Linked DNA regions of Homo sapiens: region 1 is linked to region 2. A link means that fine-mapping ties the variant in region 2 to the expression of a gene that starts in the linked region. Tissue or cell type: whole blood. Region 2 holds a variant in brackets; the other region holds the start of a gene. All regions are shown on one strand. Distances are from middle to middle.

The links. PIP is the estimated chance that this variant, and not a neighbour inherited with it, causes the effect.
Region 1: CCDC88C starts here. The variant in region 2 is fine-mapped to the expression of CCDC88C in whole blood (INTERVAL, PIP above 0.99).

Annotation. Positions count from the first base shown.
Region 1 is chr14:91,408,833-91,422,040 of GRCh38, forward strand. CCDC88C (coiled-coil domain containing 88C) reads right to left here and starts at 8,988. Exons shown (of 30, transcript NM_001080414.4): 1 at 8,799-8,988; 2 at 7,906-8,006. The coding sequence starts at 8,858. It overlaps CCDC88C-DT (CCDC88C divergent transcript), which reads left to right and starts at 9,414. Exons shown (of 3, transcript NR_184261.1): 1 at 9,414-9,508; 2 at 12,117-12,291. It also overlaps the pseudogene LOC112268126. RefSeq lists enhancers at 6,914-7,043, 7,434-7,563, 7,574-7,863, 9,469-10,113, 10,354-10,403 and 2 more and a silencer at 8,484-9,403.
Region 2 is chr14:91,392,741-91,400,740 of GRCh38, forward strand. The region is part of intron 3 of CCDC88C (coiled-coil domain containing 88C); the gene reads right to left. It overlaps LOC105370624 (a long non-coding RNA gene), which reads right to left and starts at 7,459. Exons shown (of 2, transcript XR_944148.3): 1 at 7,399-7,459. RefSeq lists enhancers at 5,588-5,657, 5,751-6,382, 7,024-7,083, 7,444-7,803, 7,644-8,000. The variant C/T (reference allele first, on the strand shown) is at 4,926.

The DNA.
Region 1 (13,208 bases), 19 kb after region 2:
CACGACCCAGCATCTTGTCCTCCAGTCCCTAGGTGACCATGAGGCTGTGCTGTGGCAGTTGTGGTTCAAGTCAAATCCCAATCCTGCCACTGCTAAGCCAGGACCTCAGGTGGGCCACATCGCCTTTCTGCTCCCTGACCCGAGCACCTGGCCCACCGCAGGCCCTCAGTCAGTGCTGTTTCCATTCCCACCGTTCCTAGCACCCACAAAAACCAACCACATATCAGTGCAGACCCCAAATGTTATACTGTATAAAACCAACCCAGCCAAATATATTTCAAGATTAAAAGAATTAAAAGCTGAACAAAGAAAAATATGTGAAATATCAAGAAAGACAGAAGGAGAAAAATGGTAGTTTTTTTTTTTTTTTAAATAGAGACAGGTCTCACTCTGTCACCCAGTCTGGCATGCAGTGGCACCATCACAGATCACTACAGCCTCGAACTCCTGAGCTCAAGGGATCTTCCTGTCTCAGCCTCCCAGGCAGCTAGGACTACAGGCCCAGCTAATTTTTTTTTAATTTTTTTTATAGAGACAGGGTCTCACTATGTTGCCCAGGCTGGTCTCGAACTCCTCAAGCCATCCTCCTGCCTCAGACCCCCAAAACACTGGGATGACAGGTGTGAGCCACTGTGCCCAGCCTAAAACGGTACATTTCTTTTTTTTTTTTTTTGAGACGGAGTCTTGCTCTTTTGCCCAGACTGGAGGGCAGTGGCACGATCTCAGCTCACTGCAACCTTCACCTCCTGGGTTCCAGCGATTCTCCCACCTCAGCCTCCCAAGTAGCTGGGATTATAGGTGCATGCCACCACGCCCAGCTAATTTTTGTATTTTTAGTAAAGACAGGGTTTCACCATGTTGGCCAGGCTGGTCTCGAACTCTTGACCTCAAGTGACACCCGCCTTGGCCTCCCAAAGTGCCGGGATTACAGGTGTGAGCCACTGTGCCAGGCCAAAATGGTACATTTTCTGACTTAATTCGCCAATAAAATCATAATGTTCCATTAAACACAGGTCTCCCTCTGTCATGCGAATTGGTCTTGGGCTGGTCCTCCCTGTGATTTACAAATTCCAGGGACAAAAATCCTATCTTGAGAAACTGGCATAAACAATCTATGGCACTCTATGGTGTACAATGCACCCTGTAAGAAATGCTAAGAGACACAATTAATTCATGTGGGGAATCCCCGAAGTGTCATTTATTTTCCAACCTCAGGCAAAAGTTGGGTCTGGCTGTGATGAAACTAGAAATCTACATCAAGTGATGTATCATGTCCCTCCCTCATCTATATACAGGACATTTCTCAAAATGCTCAGTGTCAGAAAACGTTCCCCATTAGACAAGAGCACTCAGCATTACTGAGTTCGCTTCCACCCTTCCACAGACTGTGCGCTGCTTTTCATAACAAAGGCCTCCCTTCCATCTGACAGTCCCAAGACACCGCAAAGGATGGCTAATTCAAAGGAGAGCCTGTCTTCACAGTTTCTTCTGTTATCCAGACCCCGTGATGAAGGTGCTGAGCCTCTTGGGGGTTAGTGTGGGGAGTTAAGGAAATCAATCTCAATGCCATCTGGCTCATTCAAAGCCAATAATTAGTAGAAAATTGACAAAGGAAAAAAAAACCCTACAAATCGAAAACGTTTCAAATGTTTCTGGAAGTACAGTGATGGAGTGTGGCCAAGTCATTTACATGTTACATGTTTCTCTTGGAGTCATGCATAACTGAGAAAATAAAGGTTAAGAGTTCTGTGGAAATTAATTCAGGAAAAGAAGAGGCATTCAGAATTTAAACTGCAAAGGCATTTTTAGCTACAGAAGTGTTCCTGGCAGCATAAAGTAATTTATCTTAAAGGTACAATTCCCCTCCCTTTACTGTAGATACCTTAAAAGATGAAAATCAATTTCACAGTGACAAATGCACTTCTTAAAATAGCAGAACTCAGAGAACATGCAGCGCTTTTTCTGTTTTGTTTCTTCTTTCTTTGGTCTTTGTCATTGTAGACCCATCTTTCATTGAAGTCAGACGGGACCACCCCAGGAGTGGCCAGGAGCCGAAAGCCTCAGTATACATCGTGGACATCTCCAGCACGTGCAAAGGCATAGCATACACTCAGGGTCGGGAACCTGGGAGTCCCCTCACATCACAGCATAGAAGCCTCTGACCATCCCTGCTATTGTTCTCCCCAGTTCTTGCAAGAAATAGCTCACTGAAACAACTCTAAAAGAACCCTGACATTTACTGTATGAGTAATTAAGCTACTTACCGTGATTATTACGACTCCCTCCTTTAACTAAGCCTCTCTGGGTAGAGAGCTATCAGGACACTAATCAAAACAAAAGCCTCAACTACAGTTAAGGCAGGCACATCTCAATCTCCACTCTGCCCAGCACCCCCGTAACTCCCACCTTTCCATGCTGTACAAAATGGGAATCAAGAGACATGGGTTCTAGCCCAGGTCCCAAGCCCAGCCAAAGCTCACTGGGCTTCAGTGTTCTCATCTGCAAAATGGCTACAGGATCCTTCCGGCCTTCAAAGTCTATATGGTTCCATGAAGCCTACATCTGCAGTAGCAAACGTGGACTGTACTTGCTTCTGTACCACAGGAAGATGTTATTATAACCGCTAAACAACTGCACTTCCCCAAAAGTTGTCATTCAGAACAACAATCATCTTTATATGATAGTCCTAAAACTTAAAAGGCCAACACTCTAGTATCAGGATCTCAGAGGACACGACATAAATATGGTAGCTGGTCGGAACTTGGAGAGTTCCAAGAGTTCCAAGTCTAAAGTGTGGGCCCCCAGGGATTCCTTTTCATAAAAACTTCCAACTAGAAAAAAAGAAACTGGCCAAGCACGATGGCTCATGCCTGTAACCCCAGCACTTTGGGAGGCCGAGGTGAGAGGATCACTTGAGGTCAGGAGTTCGAGACCAGCCTGGCCAACATGGTGAAACCCTGTCTCCACTAAAAATACAAAAATTAGCCAGACATGGTGGCATGCGCCTGTAATCCTAGCTAATCGGGAGGCTGAGGCAGGAGAATCACCTGAACCTGGGAGGCAGAGGTTGCAATGAGCAGAGATCAAGCCACTACACTCCAGCCTGTGCAACAGAGTGAGACTCCATCTCAAAAAAAAAAAAAAAGGAAGAAGAAAGATAACCAATTCTTGCTAGAATTTTAAAAAGAGTTATAATTTAGGCTTACAGTAACCTTGCCCCCCTCCTTTGGGAAAGCCAGCCCCCAACTTTTGGTCATATTCCAAAAACTTCCTAAATTTAAAGCTAAATCAAGAAACTATGTATTGACACAGAGAGATATCCCTAATTTATCACAGGTTAAAAAACATGCTAAATGTTTTTATATATGTTTAATGTATTTTTATACAAATATGGACCCATGCTAAAAAACAATAGCAAGAGTCCATATTTGTATAAAAATATTAATACATTAAGGACACGTATTAATATATATCATAGATAACATTCGGAAGGCACTAGAATATTGACATTGCTACCTCCACATGGTAAAATCACAGGCAAGTTTTATTTTGCTCATCTGTATATATTCCTATTCTCCTAAGATGAACATAGTTTGTGTATTTTTTTCTTTTTTTTTTTTTGAGATGGAGTCTGGCTCTGTTGCCCAGGCTGGGTGCAGTGGCACAATCTTGGCTCACTGCAAGCTCTGCCTCCCGGGTTCATGCCATTCTCCCGCCTCAGCCTCCTCAGTAGCTGGGACTACAGGCGCCCGCCACCACGCCTGGCTAATTTTTTTGTATTTTTAGTAGAGACGGGGTTTCACTGTGTTAGCCAGGATGGTCTCGATCTCCTGACCTTGTGATCCGCCCACCTCAGCCTCCCAAAGTGCTGGCATTACAGGCGTGAGCCACCGTGCCCAGCCTGTTTGTATAATTTTTAAGGACTCAAAGCCCCCATGTGTCATATACTGCAGCCAAAAGATGGAAATTACTTAAGTTCATAGGTAAAAATTGTTTTTTCCCAAGATTTTTGCGCCAATACAAATTCATTCAACCAACAAGTAAAATTTCCCCTTTTATCCTAAGCTTCTACATCTGCAAAAGGGAAACATAAACTCTCCTTCAAGTGCACTGGGGTAAAAGTTATCCTTCAAATGCTTTTTGGGAGGTAAAGAAACTCTCCTATTTCCCCGAGGATGTTTCTAACCTATGAATAATTAACACAGTATCCTGAATTTTGCAGCTAGCACCAGGGGTCACAAGCAGCCTGAACAAATATGGTTGAACTTAAAGGGCACAAGCTCTCAGCCCTAGTACCAAGTTCCAACTTTAGCCACTGCGTCAAACCGGATGGTTTACTCTCACAAGTAGAGATGTACAGCACTAAGGGCATGGGTACACGTACGTATGTCCACACACAAACTCAGATCTGGGCCTCATCTGCACAATGATAGACATATGTTAGGCTTGTTCTATATACATAGTTTTATTTAAATCTCCCCCAAATTGGTAAAATACCATCCCCTTATTACAGATCAGGAAATCAAGGCTTAGAGAGTTTCAGTCATTTGCCCAACATAATAACACTAGGAAGTGGCAGAGTGGGGATTTGAACTTGTCTGCCTGATGCTAGGGTTAAGGCTCTTAAATAATTTTCCTACAAGAGAATGAAAAACGTGTCCAAAGTTAACCAGAGCAAACTTTGTTTTCTCTTGGGTGCTGGTAGGTACCCAAGACACTGTGTTGACAGAGGGGCTATTGAGCAGGCATTCCCAGGCCTCTCCATCCAGGCCACTCAAAGCCTCAGTTTCATTCATGAATTCTCCTAGCCCTGGGCCTCCCCAGAAAGCTGAACCTGTGGGGCTTCCCTGCTTCCAGGTGCTGATGTCACCAGGAGACCAGGGCCGAGAGACTACTAACAGCCTTCTCCGGTTGCCGGAGACAATGGCCAGGTGCAGTCACGTGACCCCCAGCCAACCTCCACAAGGCTCCCAGGTGTTAGGTAACAGCCTCTTATCTGAGCTCTGTTAGCAGTACTGCTCAACGCGATTTCTTCAGGTCCTACAAACTTGGGGTGAAGGAATCAAAACAGGCAAATAGCACAGTCTAGGAGCTACTGGTATGGGAGATGAGGCAGAACAGCCTTACCCCTTACCTGCTGGCTAGTGACATGTTGCCATTTGGTAGAAGTGAAAACAGAGGCTTAAGTGCAGTACAGTCTAAATGCGGGGCTAGGACTTGGGTCCCAGGGTCCAATGTTGCCCTAGACCTCATTGGTAGAGGGCTAAGGGCTGAGAACTGTGGGGTAATCCAAGGATCGAAGAATGTGGGGGAAAAGGTAGGCCACACAAAAAAAGAACTTTTAGTTGGTGCCTCAAATCCTTTCTGGATTAAGATGGCACCTACATAGGCAAATAGCTAAATGTTAACACAAGGTTTCATTCTGTCCTCACAACCATCTCTTAAGGAAGGTACTTTACGTCCCATTTTACAGATGAGGAAACTAAGGCACTGAGCGACATGCCCAGTGTCACACTGCTGGTAAAAGGGAGGCCAAGGGTTTGAATCCCAGCTGGCTATGTAGGCTGTCCGATACAGGCCAGGGTTCATTGTTTAGTTGAGGTAATTTTACATAGCATGAAATGCATAAAGTTATAATTTGAGGAGTTTTGGAAAATGAAACATACTCCAGCCACTCTGCAGGACATTTCAACTACCCTGAAAAGGTTCCCCCGGGTCCTTTCCAGTCAATCCTCACCACTTCCAGACACAAAAACACTATTCTGACTTCTATCACCTGGAACTGGGTGATTCTGATGACCCATGCAGGAAACCATGCCCACCCGCTCTCTCTTCTCTTTCCTCATTCTGGAAAGCCAGCCATTCAGCCTCCCCACGCTCCATTCCTCTGTGCCCAACTCATCCTGAGGGACCCAGAAGCACTTCTTGAAGTCTTAAGAGCTACAATTTACCAGTTCCCACTTCTGGAATGATTACCTTGGCATATCACAGAGAGAACATCTAAAATTGCCCAGGGAAGGGGAGAAACCCTCCCACCCCACACCACCCCGGCCGAATTTAGCCATGGGCCAAATGAGAACAAGTGATGAGCTGGCGTTTCTCAAAGGAACGGTCCAACAGGCTTTCCTGATTTACAAGCAAGTGGGAAACGCTTCAGGAATTCCAAAGGTCAGGGAAGAAAGAGAAACAGTCCCAGTGCTTTTGTTCCCCCCTCTGCCTGGGTGTAGGAGCTGAATGAAAAGGCTGGGGATACTGCTGGTTTTTTTAATTAAACAGTCTTGGGCTTGGGTAAGGACAGGTTGAAGTTTCACCGGTCATTGCGCCAATGGAATCCAGTAATTTTCAGGGTCTAACAGAATGAGGGGAGAGTGGCCAGAACTCGAATATGCCACGAGACAGCTTCCGGAAAACTCAGTTTCAACAAAGTTATCTAAGAAGTGCTGTCAAAGCTGGCAACAGATTTATGTTTTTCAATCTAATCAGACACTGAAGACTGGTAAGATTGGTAGTGACTTTTTTTCCTACACCCACAGCTGTGAACTTTAAAAAAAAAAAAGCAAAAACCATTAAACAGCATGACATCAAATGACTTATTAAAATAAAAGGAGGCCGGGCACCACAGTGGCTCATGCCTGTAATCCCAGCACTTTGGGAGGCCAAGGCAGGCGGATCACCTGAGGTCGGGAGTTCGAGACCAGCCTAACATGGAGAAACCCCATTTCTACTAAAAATACAAAATTAGCCGGGCGTGGTGGCGCATGCCTGCAATCCCAGCTACTCGGGAGGCTGAGGTAGGATAATCGCTTGAACCCGGGAGGCGGAGGTTGTGGTGAGCTGAGATCACGCCATTGCACTCCAGCCTGGGCAACAAGAGCGAAACTCCGTCTCCAAAAAAAAAAAAAGCAAGGTTCTTGAATTATTTTTTTCTAAACAGGCTGTTTAAGGCAATCTATATAAGCCACTTTCTGGATATGCCAAAGCAAACTGCTCCTCTGCCTTTGTGAGCCACAAACGAAGCTGATCTCTCATTAGCTAATAGATTTATGCTCCAGTATGACAACTTGCTCAGTCGTAGGTGAATAGGTGCGCACACGAGGCTGATCCACAGAGAACATTAGGATGTTTTATTTTGCTTCAAGTGCCTGTGAATCATCCCGACACTCAGTTCCAATGTTCCCTGCAGTTTGAGTTAAAAACAGAATGCAAAGGTAGAAGCCAACACCTACGTTGTGGCAAGCTGTCAATCAGGCCGTGCAGAGCTCAGCAACAGGAAAGGATGTGGTCAGATGTACTCGCTGGCAAGAGTAACTTCTACTAAGACCCTGTTCAGGCTGCATGCTTCCAAACAAACAGCACCATGGGACCCTCCTAACACTGTGACTTTAAACTCAGTCCATACAGTAGGACTTAATGAATTGCACTTGCTTTGGGGCAACTGAAAAAGGAAGATGAAATGTAAAGGAGCTCAGAAACACAGACACCCTCATCTAAAATGAAACTTTACAGTAACCCTCGGATGCCTGGGCCCACCCCGACACTTCCTGTAACCAGACACTCTCCGTTACAGTTCCTTGCCCTCCAAAAGGGGACTTTTTCATTTCATTGCTCAAACCACAATTAAGTCCTTGAGTCTGAAGTCAATTGCACTATCTACACCACGTAAATGACAGTCATTCAATTCCAAATTTCCTTCATCAAACCAACTGCCAGACCCACTGTCCTGGAGTTCTTCAAACACCTACGAATGTCCAACAGGCACGTTAATACTGAGATACCAGCGTCTCCACCTTCAGAGAACTACCCCCCACCCCACACACACCCCGCCATGCAACCTTCCACTCCATTTCTACTCTCAAACTTTCTAACGCACCATTCTTTCCTTCCTCCGAGAAGAAGGTAACTTACATTTGCAGCATAATTTGGTTCAAAAAGATGCCGTCCACTAAATCCATGTACATAGTCAGGTTGTCCTGGCTGCCGCTTCCAAACGGGCCAAAAGTTTTCACCTGCGGGGAGGGGGACGAGGAGAGAAAGACAGGAAGTCACCCCGTGCGCACAAACGGTCCAAAGCTCTCCCAGGCAGAGACTGGACGGGTCAGTGTGAGCAGAAGGGGGTCACCCACGCCCACACCACCCTTCAGCAGGCACCAAGCCCGGCCTTCTCCTAGGGCCTGTCTCCCCTCCCCGCGCGGGGCAACAGACACGAGACAGGAGGAAAAACTTCCTCGCCACTTTTCTCCCGCGTTCCAGAGCGGAAGAAATAAAAATAAAAAGGACTTTTCAATAAATGTCTCACGTCTCAAATCCATTGTAAATCAGTGCGCCCACCCCAGTCTGTTCGCTTTCCCATTCGGCGCCCCCCATTCCCCACCCGTCACCGCCATCCACCGGCTGGTCTCAGGGATTCAGAAAAACTACATGAGATATTTGGTTGGGAAGAATGGGGTCCTTTTCGGGAGTGGCTAAACCCCAGGGACAGGAGTGACCACTGGGACCCGGTCCGCCCCGAGGCAGCCAGCCTAGAGCCCCAGCGGGAACAGGTGTACCCGCCCGGCTCCTGGCCCGGCCGAAAGCGCGGCGGGGTCCCGCGCCGGACGCACAACGGGGGCGCCGGCTCCAGAGTTACAAAGCTCCGGACTCCAGGACGCGGCCCCAACCCCGGCCGGGAGCCACTTGCTGCGTCCCTCGCGCCCCGGAGCCACCCGGGGCCCCGGCCGTGTCGGGTCTGCGGCGTCCCGTCGCCGGGCTAGAGAGAAGCCGGTGCACCAACAAAGGGGCGGGGAGCCAGGCGCACTCACCCAGGTCACCAGCGGGCTCTGCAGGAAGAGCTCCAGGAGCTCCGAGACTGTCACGTCCATGCTGAGGCTGCGCCCGCCGGCTCCGCGCCCCCCGCCCCGCGTCCCCGTTCCCCCGCGCCGCGGCACAAAACGGCTCCGCAGCGAGCAGCGGGCGCGGGGCTGCGGCGGCTCGCGCCCGGGAGACAAAGGCGGGGCGCGCGAGCCCACGTTCCGCGGCTTCGGCGGCCCCGCGCCCCGCCCGGGTCTGGGGGAAGGGGAGGGCCAGCCGCTCGGGGAGGAACAATACGGGCGGCCCCGCCCCTCGGCGGCCCTGGGCGACCGGCGCGCCGCCTCGCGGTGCCAGCCCGGGAGCCCGGGAGCCCGGGCGCGGGACCAGGCTACGCGGGGCGCTGGGAGGGGACTGGTGGCCCGAGGCGGGTGGGTCGCGGGGCCCGGCTCCCCGCCCGTGGGACCGCGCGCCCTCGCCGAGCGCAGCCTCCCCGCGTGTGGGGCCCCAGCACGTGGCGCATCCCTGCGCGCGTGCGCGTGCAGCCGGGGCCCGAGCGCCACGTGCGAGCTGGGGTGCGCGGGCACTGGTGCGTGCCGGGAGCGGGGACGCCCTGCCCTCCGAGGTTGCTCTGCCCTCCGAGGTCGCCCGCAGCTGCCGCCCGCTCTGGGCTTGGGGACCTCGGCCCTGCGCCTTTCCGCACTCCTGGCAGGTGCAGCCCCAGGTACAGTCAAGAGGCCCCGCAAACCCCCGCTCCTCACGCTTGTGCGCGGCGCGATAAACGCGCCCCGACCCTGGGGCTGGGCTGGAGGGCAAAGAAGAAACTTTATGTTGAGTTTAGGCCTTAGGGGCGCGGCCCCTCGCGCCCTACCGTGCCCCACCGTGCCATGTTCCGGGCTGCCTGCCTTCTAAAAGTTCCTGCAGGAAGCAGGTGATGTGGCCTCCCCGACCCGGGCCCGCCCCCACCACTTTGCCGGAGGCGAGCTAAATTCCAGCCGGGGTTCCTAGCAGCAGCTTAGTGGCAGGCGACAGGAAAAAGGGCAAAGGCCCCAACTGGCTGGAAGGCAAGCCCGGGGGCAGGACCTCCTTGCGGGACGGCACGAGGCAGGAGCCGGCTCCAGGCTGGTCTCGGCCTGGTAATAATTTCACACCACCAGCCGGTCATTGTTCAAAGCACTGTAGACCATTTTACTAATTTAACCCTAACGATCGCCGCATTTCGCAGCTGGGCCAACTGGTACAGGGTTGACCCGAAGGGCCCTGCGTGGCGCTTGGCAAGTATACAGCAGGCACTAAATGGCTGCCGACAGGCTCGGTGGTAATTTTGAAAGTTGGCTCTGTGCAGCGTTGGGGCTGCGGCATCTGCTGGTGGCGAGTGGTATTACAGCCCAGCGCTGGCGGACCCCGTTGGGCTGGGGAGGGTTGTGAGATTATGGCCTGAGAGCCAAGGGGGTCGGTTAGGGGTCCCTAGAGACTGTGGAAGGCGGGGTAGCATAAAACACAATGGGGGACTGCGGAGGAACTAAAATTTCGAGACTACATGGTTTTGTTGTGCACCAGAAGTTCATTAGAGAAGTTCCTTAATTGCTTCTCCGCCCGCCGCGATGGCACTCGACCCCGCGGATTAATTTAACAACTCTGATGGTTGCTCTGTGAAATTTAAAGAACAGTGGTTTAAGCAAAGACCACAAGAAAGAAGAATTGAGATCAAAGAGGAGTGTGTGCCATCGCTGTGGAGGAGTTTCAGTTGTGAATCATGAAATGTCCTGTAAACCATTTCAAGGAGTTTGATTTTTATACCAAAAACAATGGGAAGACACTACAGGTTTTTGGAGCAGCAGCTCAGACGTGTCGAAAAAGATGTTTTGATCCCTAAAATAATGAGAGAAAAGGCCAGAGAGAGGTCTTCTGACAAGTTCAAGATTTTACCAAATGTTGCAAGAACTCTGGAATCCTTATGGTAGTAAAATGCTGGAAAGAAAATTCTGCATTGAAAGAATGTCTTAACAGCTCACTATAATGACCCAGCCTTTTATGAATAATGCAAAGTGGAAAACCTGAAGGAAAAGGAAGAATTCAGAAAAACTGGAATTTCTACAAAGAAAAGTCTACAGAAGCTGCCCACAAGTGTGTAGACAAATATTCAGATGACATTCAGGATCTCTAATACTCATGGAAGTCGTTTATAGAATAAACCTTAAATAATGGACTCAAGAATGTGTGTTTGCTAATTATGTGTGTATCCTAATTATGGAAATATTAATTTTATCTGAAATAAAAATCTTTTTTTCTTTTCTCTTTTTTTTTTTTTTTTTTTTTTTTGAGACAACAGAGTCTCACTCTGTTGCCCAGGCTGGAGTGCAGTGGCGTGCTCTCTGCTCACTGCAACTCCGCCTCCCGGGTTCGCGCCATTCTCCTGCCTCAGCCTCCAGAGTAGTTGGGACTGCAGGCGCCCACCACCACGCCCGGCTAATTTTTTGTATTTTTTACTAGAGACGGGGTTTCACCGTGTTAGCCAGGATGGTCTCTATCTCCTGACCTCGTGATCCGCCTGCCTCGGCCTCCCAAAGTGCTGGGATTACAGGCGTGAGCCACCGCGCCCGGCTAAAAATCTTTTATTTAAAAAAGTTCCTTAATTGCTCATAATGTAAGTTAGTTCAAAAATAGGTATGATGTGTACACACACCGCTCTTCGCTCGGAAGCCTCTCTTCTGAAAAGTAAGGGATGCAGATGCGGCCAAAGTTGTTTTTCCAATTTTTTTGGAAAGACAAGGATGAGGAATCTTTAAAGTTATTTATTGAGGCCGGGTGCAGTGCCTCACACCTGTAATCCCAGCACTTTGGGAGGCCTAAGTAGGTGGATCACTTCAGCCCAAGAGTTCAAGACCAGCCTGGCCAAAAAAAATAGAAAAATTAGCTGGGTGTGGTGGTGCACACCTGTGATCCCAGCTACTCTGGAGGCTGAGAATCACTCGAACCCGGGAGGGGAAGGTTGCAGTGAGCTGCTATTGCACCATTGCACTCCAGCCTGGGTGACAGAGCAAGACTCTGTCTCAAAAAAAAAAATTTATTGAGTAAGCTTATTCTTTCACACTAAGAAATACAGTGGACAAATGCCTTCTGACAGTTGTGAGACTTTTCCCATCCTGGTGAGGGAATTTTCCCCTGGGGACATTGACAAGGCCCTGGGCCACAGCCATGTCAGGAATGTTTGCTTTGGGGTCAGTTAGCTGCTGTGTTGGTTCATAATCATTGATGTATCTGCTACCATGCCTTGGCTTGACTACGCCACCAGGATTAAAAGGATCTAACTCAGCTCCCTTGTTCCCTAGGAGGCAATGGGGCAGGCAAACTGGATGGTGCCCCAGGTGTAGCAAGCTTGGAAGGCTTCAAAGGACGGGACAAGTTTGGCCTGGACAAGTTTCCTCCTAGAAGTCACTTAATCTGCAAAATCAAGATAAGACCATTTTCCCCATGTGACTTGACAAGACAATATTAAAGCTCAAGGTGATGCATGTAAAAAGATTGTGGAAGCCATAAAGCTTTATAGAGATACATAATCACTGTCTCTTCCTCATCTCCTGCCCCATTCTGCTACCCTTGCTTTAATAAAAATTGTTTCCCCGAAGTCTCCGTCGGGCTGGGGCATAAGCTTCAAGGAGCAAATGCACAGACCCTCCACTGACCACTACACAGAGAGTCCCAATGCCCCTCCTCCATCCTTCCAGAACACCCTTGGCTTTCACTCCATCCATCTGAGCCTTAACTCTTTATTTTTAAGTTTTTCCTTGTTAATCTCTGGATATAAATGTATCTATTGCTTAATACATTGCTTCCTGGGTAGAAGCAGTATTTTGTGTTCTTCTGATAAAGGAATTTTCTACCCTCTCAGAAAATACTGACTCAGCAGTGTTAGCTAATGGCATTTCTACTTCACCTGATAGGAGCAGGAGCTTAAATTGTTACTACAACTTGGGGTGGGGAGAGGGAATGGCTATTTTTTTTTTTTTTCGAGACTGAGTCTTGCTCTGTCACCCAGGCTGGAGTGCAGTGGCGCAATCTTGGCTCACTGCAACCTCTGTCTCCCAGGGGTCAAGCTATCTCAGCTCACTACCATGCCGAGCTAATTTTTGTATTTTTAGTAGAGACAAGGTTTCGCCATGTTGGCCAGGCGGTTCTCAAACTCCTGACCTCAGGTGATCTGCCCGCCTCGGCCTCACAAAGTGCTGAGATTACAGGTGTGAGCCACTATGGCTGGCCACAAAATACTATATTCTATGATAGTTTTATATTCTGTCACAGATCTGACATTTTGGAACGTTCTTTTATTTACTTTATTTATTTATTTATTTATTTATTTTTGAGACAGAGTCTCGCTCTGTTGCCCAGGCTAGAAGTGTAATGGCTGAGCAATCATAGCTCAC
Region 2 (8,000 bases):
CTCACCACGCCCCTCACTCTCACCGCGCCCCTCACTCTCACTGCACCCCTCACTCTCACTGAGCCCCCTCACTGCACTTCCTGGGAGAGGCAGAGGCTGCCGGAGTCCCCGCCCTGAGTGAGTCTGCAATGTAGGGTGGGACACAGAGAAAACAAGTCAGGGCCAGGGGTGTGATGACGGCGATAATGATGTTAAATTCCAGAGAGTCCTCAAGGCCTCACATAGCGAAAAAGGAAAGGTGCTGGGGAAGGAGAAACTGCAAGGACAGGACGTGTGAGGCAGCGGGAGAGGGAGAGACAGTACCGGAGTCCGCTCCCGGAAACGGCCCCTGGGCACTGGGCTGGGCATTTCCCAGGCACCAATCGCTCACTGGCTCTCTCAGAATCACTGCAACCCAGGGAGGGGAGTGCAGTCATCACCCCCATCTGACAAAAGAGGAACAGGCTAGGAGGGGTTGGGCCGCTTGCCCCAGGTCACACCAGTGTCAGGGCAGCCCTGGAGGACAAGAGGAGCTGCCCCGGGAGAGGCTGAGCTGGGAGATGACAGGTCCAGGTGCCAGCTATTCTGTCCGCAAGTAGGATGGGAGCCCCCCCACCCCCTAAACCCCCAGCCCTGCAGGCAGAGGGGCAGATGAGGCAGAGGCAACCTGAGCGAATTCTACCTCCCGAAGGAAGAAACAAGGGCAAGGTAGGAGAAGGGGTACAGACAGAAGCGCCCTCCCAGACGGCCCACACCTCAGCCCCGATCTGGCTTCCTCTGAAGGTCTGGACTACCTGTTTTGGATTAACTGCCCCAGGTGGTTATCAAAATAGCCCAGAGTTCTCAGAAACCACCAACGCTTCCTTCTTCTGGCATCTAAGCTTGGGATACTCGCCTCTGCAACTTAGTCCATTTCCACCTGAAATATTCAACTTCCCAGCCTGTCCAACATGGTGAAACCCCATCTCTACTAAAAAATACCAAATTAGCCGGGCATGGTGGCCCATGCCTGTAATCCCAGTTACTCAGGAGGCTGAGGCAGGAGAATTGCTTGAACCTGGGAGACAGAGGTTGCAGTGAGCCGAGATCGCACCACTGCACTCCAGCCTGGGCGACAGAGCGAGACTCCGTCTCAAAAAAAAGAAATCAACTTCATGAGCTCTACTCCGTAAAATCTGAATGCCACAAATTCTCACCCTAAAAACAGGGTGCTAGAAGACCAATTGAGCACAAAAAGTGCCAGCTGCTCCGGAGTTTCTGTCCTTTAAGTAGCCACAATTCCACACTTTAAAGGCACGTAAATCTGACTTGCTGGGCAGAAGGTGAGCCTGTCTGGTTACTAAGGTTTGGAAAGGAGGCAAAAATTTTAGTCTTAAAATTTTAAAGTCATTCAGCCTAAACCTTAGAATGCTCAGGGGAGCCAAGCTGGCTAGACAAAGTTGAAAACAATCAATTTAATTTCCACCCCCCAGGGACTGAGCCTCCCAGTACCTGACATATGGCATTTCCATCAACAAAGCAAACACCACATGAAAAGCCTACAGGTCTGCGTGAAAACAGTAGGGGAGCCCTAAGCTCCAGCCCAGCCCCCTCACTGCATTGCACCTCCATACCGGTTTACCCCTGTTTACCCTCTAAACAGTCAGGGTCTGGGTCCCTGCCATGTGTCAGGGACACAGAGGAACAAGGCAGGCCCCATCCTCTAATTATTCAACAGTCTAGAAAGGGCAGCAGGTCGGGGGCACTTTGCAGGGTCATTTTAACCTAGAGACAGGATTCCCGGCCCAGGCCTGGTGTGACACCGTGCTCCCTGATTGTAATGACTTATTCTCTGAATTATTTACTCCACTGAATGGTGGCCTCCGTTGTTATGTATCTTGTCATTAACACATGCTGACTGACGGCAGACACATTTCCATGCTGGTGTGACAGACAAACAGAAAGATTCAGTGCCTGCTTTTAAGGAATTCTATTGCTGGTGAGGGATAAAATCATGAGGCTTCCTTTGATGAGATAATATGTGTAAGTCACTCAGCTTAAAATAAAACGATCATACAGGAGAAAAACGTGCAGGGCTAGAGACAGGCACACGTGCACACTCGCAAGATTAATCCAAATGAATCAGAGCGCATTACTCCGGGAGGGGTCCTTGGATAATCCGCTCAGTAACAAATGAACACAGAGTGGCCAGGGGACGGGCCTTGGGTGGGGGGCCTGCCTGCCACCCCTCTGCCAGACGGGTGGGCATCCTCCCCTCCCACCCACGTGTCCCCTGAGTACAAGGCCTTTGTAGAACCCCTCCTACAACCCTCCCAGGCTGGCACTATTAATATCTCCACTTTTCAAATAAGAAAGACTCTCAGAGATGAAGTAACTTACCCAAGGCCACAAATCTGAGGGGTACGCTCAAAGGAACCCACCATTCGACCTTGTGCCTCTGCAGATGGTGAGGCTCTTGGTTGTTTTTCCATTTCTATTTGGATTTGTGTCTCCTGCCTCCCAAGACCCCTACCTGCAAGTAACTGCCCCCTCCGCCTGCAGAATACAGGTGAACAAGTACGTCCCCTGCAGAGTCAGCCTGGGACCCAGAGCTGTCGCTATTATTATTCACTGATTAAAGAAACGTCTTGTGATCTCATTTGAGCCTCACAACCACCTATAAGGTAATTTTTACCCCTGCTCTACAGGTGAGGTTGGACGATGCACCCTAAGTCACACTGCTGGGAACAGTGAACACAAGCTTCTGGACCAGGGAAAGCGTTCAGGGACCCAAGCTGACACAGTGGCAGAGCTCTCATCATTCCTGCCTTCCCACCTCCCATTCCACCTTGTTCTCTGGCTTCACTTTTCTGGCCTTCGGGTAACCAAAGAAGTCACCCCACAGAGCTGGCTCACCCACTTCCACCAGGCAGTGGCTAACGTTATCCCCCAGCCGAGAAGGCAAACCTGCCTGCTCCCTCCCCAGGCCACCAGCCCCCAGGCCAGGATTGCCCAGCTGCAGCTAAGGAAAGCAACCAGAGGCTTCTCCCTAGAGCTGCAGTGTGCCCCATCTCTTCCCCTACAGAACACCCCTACATGTAGAATTACCACCCCTCAACCCTTAGCCTCCCCGAAACCCAATCCCAAACCAATAGAACCCTCCCAGTGGAACGTGGCAGCCTTGACTCTTTATCTGAAATCTCTGCCTCCCCCCTAAATACCACCAACTCAGAACTGGGGGTACAGAGTGCGGCCCCTTCAACTTTTACAGTACTGGCTGAAACCACCAATTTAAGACCAGCACTTCCTCATCCTCCTTCCCTCGACATTCCTCTCATTACTAGAAAAATAAGACGACAATTATATCGCGACAATTACATCTCGAAGGATCAAGGGGCCCTGGATGCCAAGGCGAAGCAGCAGAGAATCTCTGCCATTCCCCAAAGAAGAGCTGAATAACAAAAACTGTTACGAGCCCTGGAGGTGAGCCACGCAGCCGGCTTCACGGAGAGGCAGAGCCTGCCTGGGCAAGTTCTTCTTCAGAAACTCCTTTTGACAAACCAGTGAGAACATCAAACATGCTGATCCTGGCATCTAACACCAAACCCAAGGCAAAGGAGAAACCTCTGTTTTTTCTTTTTAACGACTTGAGAAATCCATTTCTCTCCTTTCTGTCACAAAAGGAACTGGTTCCTCCTGCCACTTCCTCCCACTTTGGCGTTTAGGGTATGTCCATAAAGTGAGCTGTGTTTCCAACCTTCATTCACGCCCGCATCACTCGATTCCCACAACACTCATCACCCACAAGTGCAGCTTTCAATCGGAGCTGAACGAGAGCTAACTAAGAATGAGCCCGACAAGCACCGGGAACACCAAGCACAGCTCACTCGCGGCTTCTGCAAGCTTAACATTCATCGTTTCAGCCATAATTTTTCCGGAAGCACAAATTCAGACCCCTTGCCCTCCGATCAGGGGATCACTCAGCTTCCACTCCCAGAAGCTTTGTTGCTTACTTTGTGCTCCCCAAGATGGGCTCATAAACACACATCTCTGTAAATAAATGGCCATGAATTAAGAAACAACTTCAGGAGTTCGAGACCAGCCTGGGCAACACAGGGAGACTCTGTCTCTACAAAAAATCAGAAACATAAATTAGCCAGAAGTGGTGGTGCATGCTGGTAGTCCCAGCTACTCGGGGGGCTGAGGCAGGAGGATTGCTTGAGCCTGGCAGGTCAAGGTCGAGGCTGCAGTAAGCCGTGATCGCACCACTGCACTCCAGCCTGGGCTACACAGAGCAAGACCCTGTCACCAAAAAAAAAAGAAAGAAAGAAAAAAACTTGAGCAAACGGTGAAAAAATCAATACTTGACATGGTAAGATAACCTGTATCAGAAACATGATTCTGGAACAAACACCAATAGGGGAGGGAGAGGGGCCTGGGGGAAGTCCCGATGTGTCAATGTCCAGAGGTGGGCAGGTCTCCAAGCAGACCCTGTGAGGCTGCATGTTCTGAGCATCTGGGCTCGGTGCTGTGCCCAACAGGCCCAGGCAAGGGGACAGCCACAGGGGCCTGGGTGGCATCCCCAACACCAGGAGTGAAAGCAAGACTCCTGAGCCAAACCTCCTTCCCGCAAAGGCTGAGGAAATGATGGCCGCTCCTGAAACAGGAGAAAAGCCCCAGCAAATCAAGGTCTTGACTCAAGTCCTAGAGAAGGAAGCCTCAGAGAACAGAAAGACTGTGTACACACACACACTCACACACACTCTCACACTCACACACTCTCACACTCATACTCACACACACACATTCTCTCCATCTCCTTGCCCTGGCTGAACTCCAACTCTGCTAATTACATCAAACCCACCTTTCGCCCTCTGCAACACCTGCAATTAACCCTGAATCTCTGCTTCCTGCCGCTCTGGGGTGAGGGGTGAAGTCTGAGGCCAGCTGCTCCCTGTTCCACCCTC[C/T]GCCCAACCCCGGAAGTTTCAGAGGTGCCTGAAGCAACCCGGTCCCTTCCTCTGGGCTCCAGGCTGGTGTGAAGCCGGGTTATCACGGGAGCCCACACTCCCAGCTGGGGGGCACACCACACGCAGCACCCCCACCCCACTGCGGGTGCAGATCCTGACTGGCCCTGCCAGCCTTTACAGGACAGCACGTCCACCTGCAGCAAGTTACCTCCCTACATGATTCTAGAAAGCCTGGCTTTTAGAAAGAAGCTTCTCCAAGCAGCTGATGATGAAGAAAACTTGCAGCTTTCCGGGGCTGTTTCCTGATCTTGCTCCATGAGCCTTGGTTTCCTAATCTATCGAATGGAGACAGTAATTTCTTCTTTATAATACCGAAGTAACAGTGAAAAATGACGAGGCTCTAAAGCCCCCAGCATGGGCACTCAGTAAAGGTTAAGCTCCCTCCCATTCATCTCTCAGCCTTTTGATTTGGGCACAGATCTGAGTCCCACAGTTCCTCGCTGCTATCTGATATGCCTGGACAGCATTTCTTCTGACAACAAAAAGGAGAGAAAAGAAAGGAAAACAAGTCCAACTGGCACTCTAACAGCTTACAGAAACCAAATCTGCCTCCCAAGAGGTTTGGGCGTTCAGCACACCACCAGGTCCTCAGCCCGTTTGCTTCACCCCTGGCCAACAGTTGAACCACTGAGCTTGTAACACCAACACTGGCTGGCATGGTGGCTCACGCCTGTAACCCCAACACCTTGGGAGGCCAAGGCAGGAGGATCGCTTGAGCCCAGGAGTTTGAGTAGCCTGGCCAACACAGTGAGACCCCATCTCTACAAAAAATACAAAAATAATTAGCTGGGCATGGTGGTGCACACCTGTAGTCCCAGCTACTTGGTAGATTGAGGCTGGAGGATTGCTTGAGCCCAGGAGTTTGAGGTTACAATGAGCTATGATCGCGCCACTGCACTCCAGCATGGGTGACAGAGTGAGACCCTGTCTCAAAAATAAATAAATAAAAAGGTAAAATAAATAATTGAAAGAAATACAAGCAGCAGGAGCCAGCAGGACAGGGAGCACCACAGGCTGGGAGTGCAGGCCTTTTGTTAAGTGTGGAAAGGGTGATTCTAGTGGCCCTGAGAGCTGCAGCCCTCTTGTCTGGCTGATCAGGAAGCTACTGCCAGCAGCCTGCAGCCCTGGGGGCGCACAGGTCTGCTGCAGAGCATGGCTTTCCTCGGCCCAGACGGCTGTTCCTGCTCCTCTAGGGTGCTTGCTCCAGGTGGGCACTGAGCCGCCCACAGCTGAGTGGTCTCCTGGGCCTCGGGCAGCCCTGTGTGCTGGTGCCCTCTCTCCTCAGGGGTTCTCCTCTCTGCGGACCACTCTCCCTCTGGTCCTCCCACTTGGGGGACTCCTCACTGTCATCTTGGGGAGTCCCATGTGCTCTGCCCAGCCCTAACCCTGGGGCCTGCTCCCACCTCCTTGGCCATGGGCAGTTCTCATTCTCCATGCCTGCTTGTGACTCTTGAGCCAACCTCCCCATGGCTCCCATCTGCATTCCCAGCCAGGAACGCTCAGATCCACCTGACCGACACCAGTGACACCAAGCTGGCTTGCTCCCCACTAAGCCCACTTCTCCTCACCCAGAGCCCCAGGCCCACCCAGAGAACAGCACCAACGCCCCAACCCCAAGTCACACCAGGAACCCACGGACCCCTCAGCCCTGGATTCCCACATCTGGGCTGGATCCCCATAGAGTCTCCTAGAGCTCGTCCTTCTCTCTGCTGCCGTGGCCACAGTCCAGGGCCCTGCCACCTGCCAACCCCTCCCAACACCTGTGCATTCTCCAAATGGGAGCAGGAGTTTTCTTTCCTAAGCTCTCTCTTTTAGAAGTTCAGGTTCCTAGGCCAGGCTCAGTGGCTCACGCCTGTAATCCCAGCACTTTGGGAGGCCGAGGCAGGTGGATCATCTGAGGTCAGGAGTTCAAGACCAGCCTGGCCAACACGGTGAAACCCCGTCTCTACTAAAAATACAAAAAATGTGCCAGGCATGATGGCAGGTGCCTGTAATCCCAGCTACTCAGGAGGCTGAGGCAGGAGAATCATGTGAACCCAGGAGGCAGAGGTTGCAGTGAGCCGAGATCGCGCCACTGCACTCCAGCCTGGGCGACAGAGTGAGACTCCCTCTCAAAAAAAAAAAAAAAAAAGAAGAAGAAGAAGAAGTAGTTGAGATCCCTAAGCACCTAAGCACAGCCTGGAGCCTCACCCCCATACCCGCAAGAGACGCCCCAACCTTCAGGCTGCTTTATGTCTCCAAAGCTCTGCAGGTGCCGCTCTTCCCCAGAGGACACCCCTTCCCTGCCAGTCAACCCCACCAGCCGCAGGCAGACATTTCCCCCGAGAAAGCTCTCCAGGATCCCTGCTCCCCAGGCCTGTGTCTGGCCATATCCCATGTCCTGCGTACACAGGTGTTATTGCAGCTGATTTACCTGGCCACTCTCCCACCCCACAAAACGTGAGCATCTCGGGCATGGAGAGGACAAGAAAGAGAAACAGAAAGAGGAAGAGCCGGTAACCTGTCAAGTCCCACCCACCTGGGGGCCACCAGAGCTTCCACATCCTGCATTTCCTTCTTCTATTATACAAGCTCTAGCTAGGGAATGGGGATCGGGAGGAGGACGGGGGACCCCCCGCAGACCATTGCCCTCCTCAGGCACATCTCCCAGCAGTCTGGAGGGTTCGCTCTTGAATTCTGAACGGACTGCAAACCTTCACATGGAAGCTGACTGTGACCTCCGGATGGTTGGGTCCACAAAAGCTCCCGCTGCCGACATGGGGACAGAGCCCAGGCCAGAGCTGGACTCCCGGCCACAGCCAGGCCCTGCCCCTAATGGCTGCCTTGTTCTCTAACCCCACTACGATTCCCTCAGGCAGTCCTGCTGGAGAGATCCCCAAAAGGCACTCAAGATCCTCCAACAAAAACGAAGTCCACCCAGACATTGCAAACACAACCTCAGGACCTCACCGCCTGGCAGGGACTCGAGAATCTTCAGCATGCAATAGCAATTTGTTAAAATAGCTGCATTTTAAC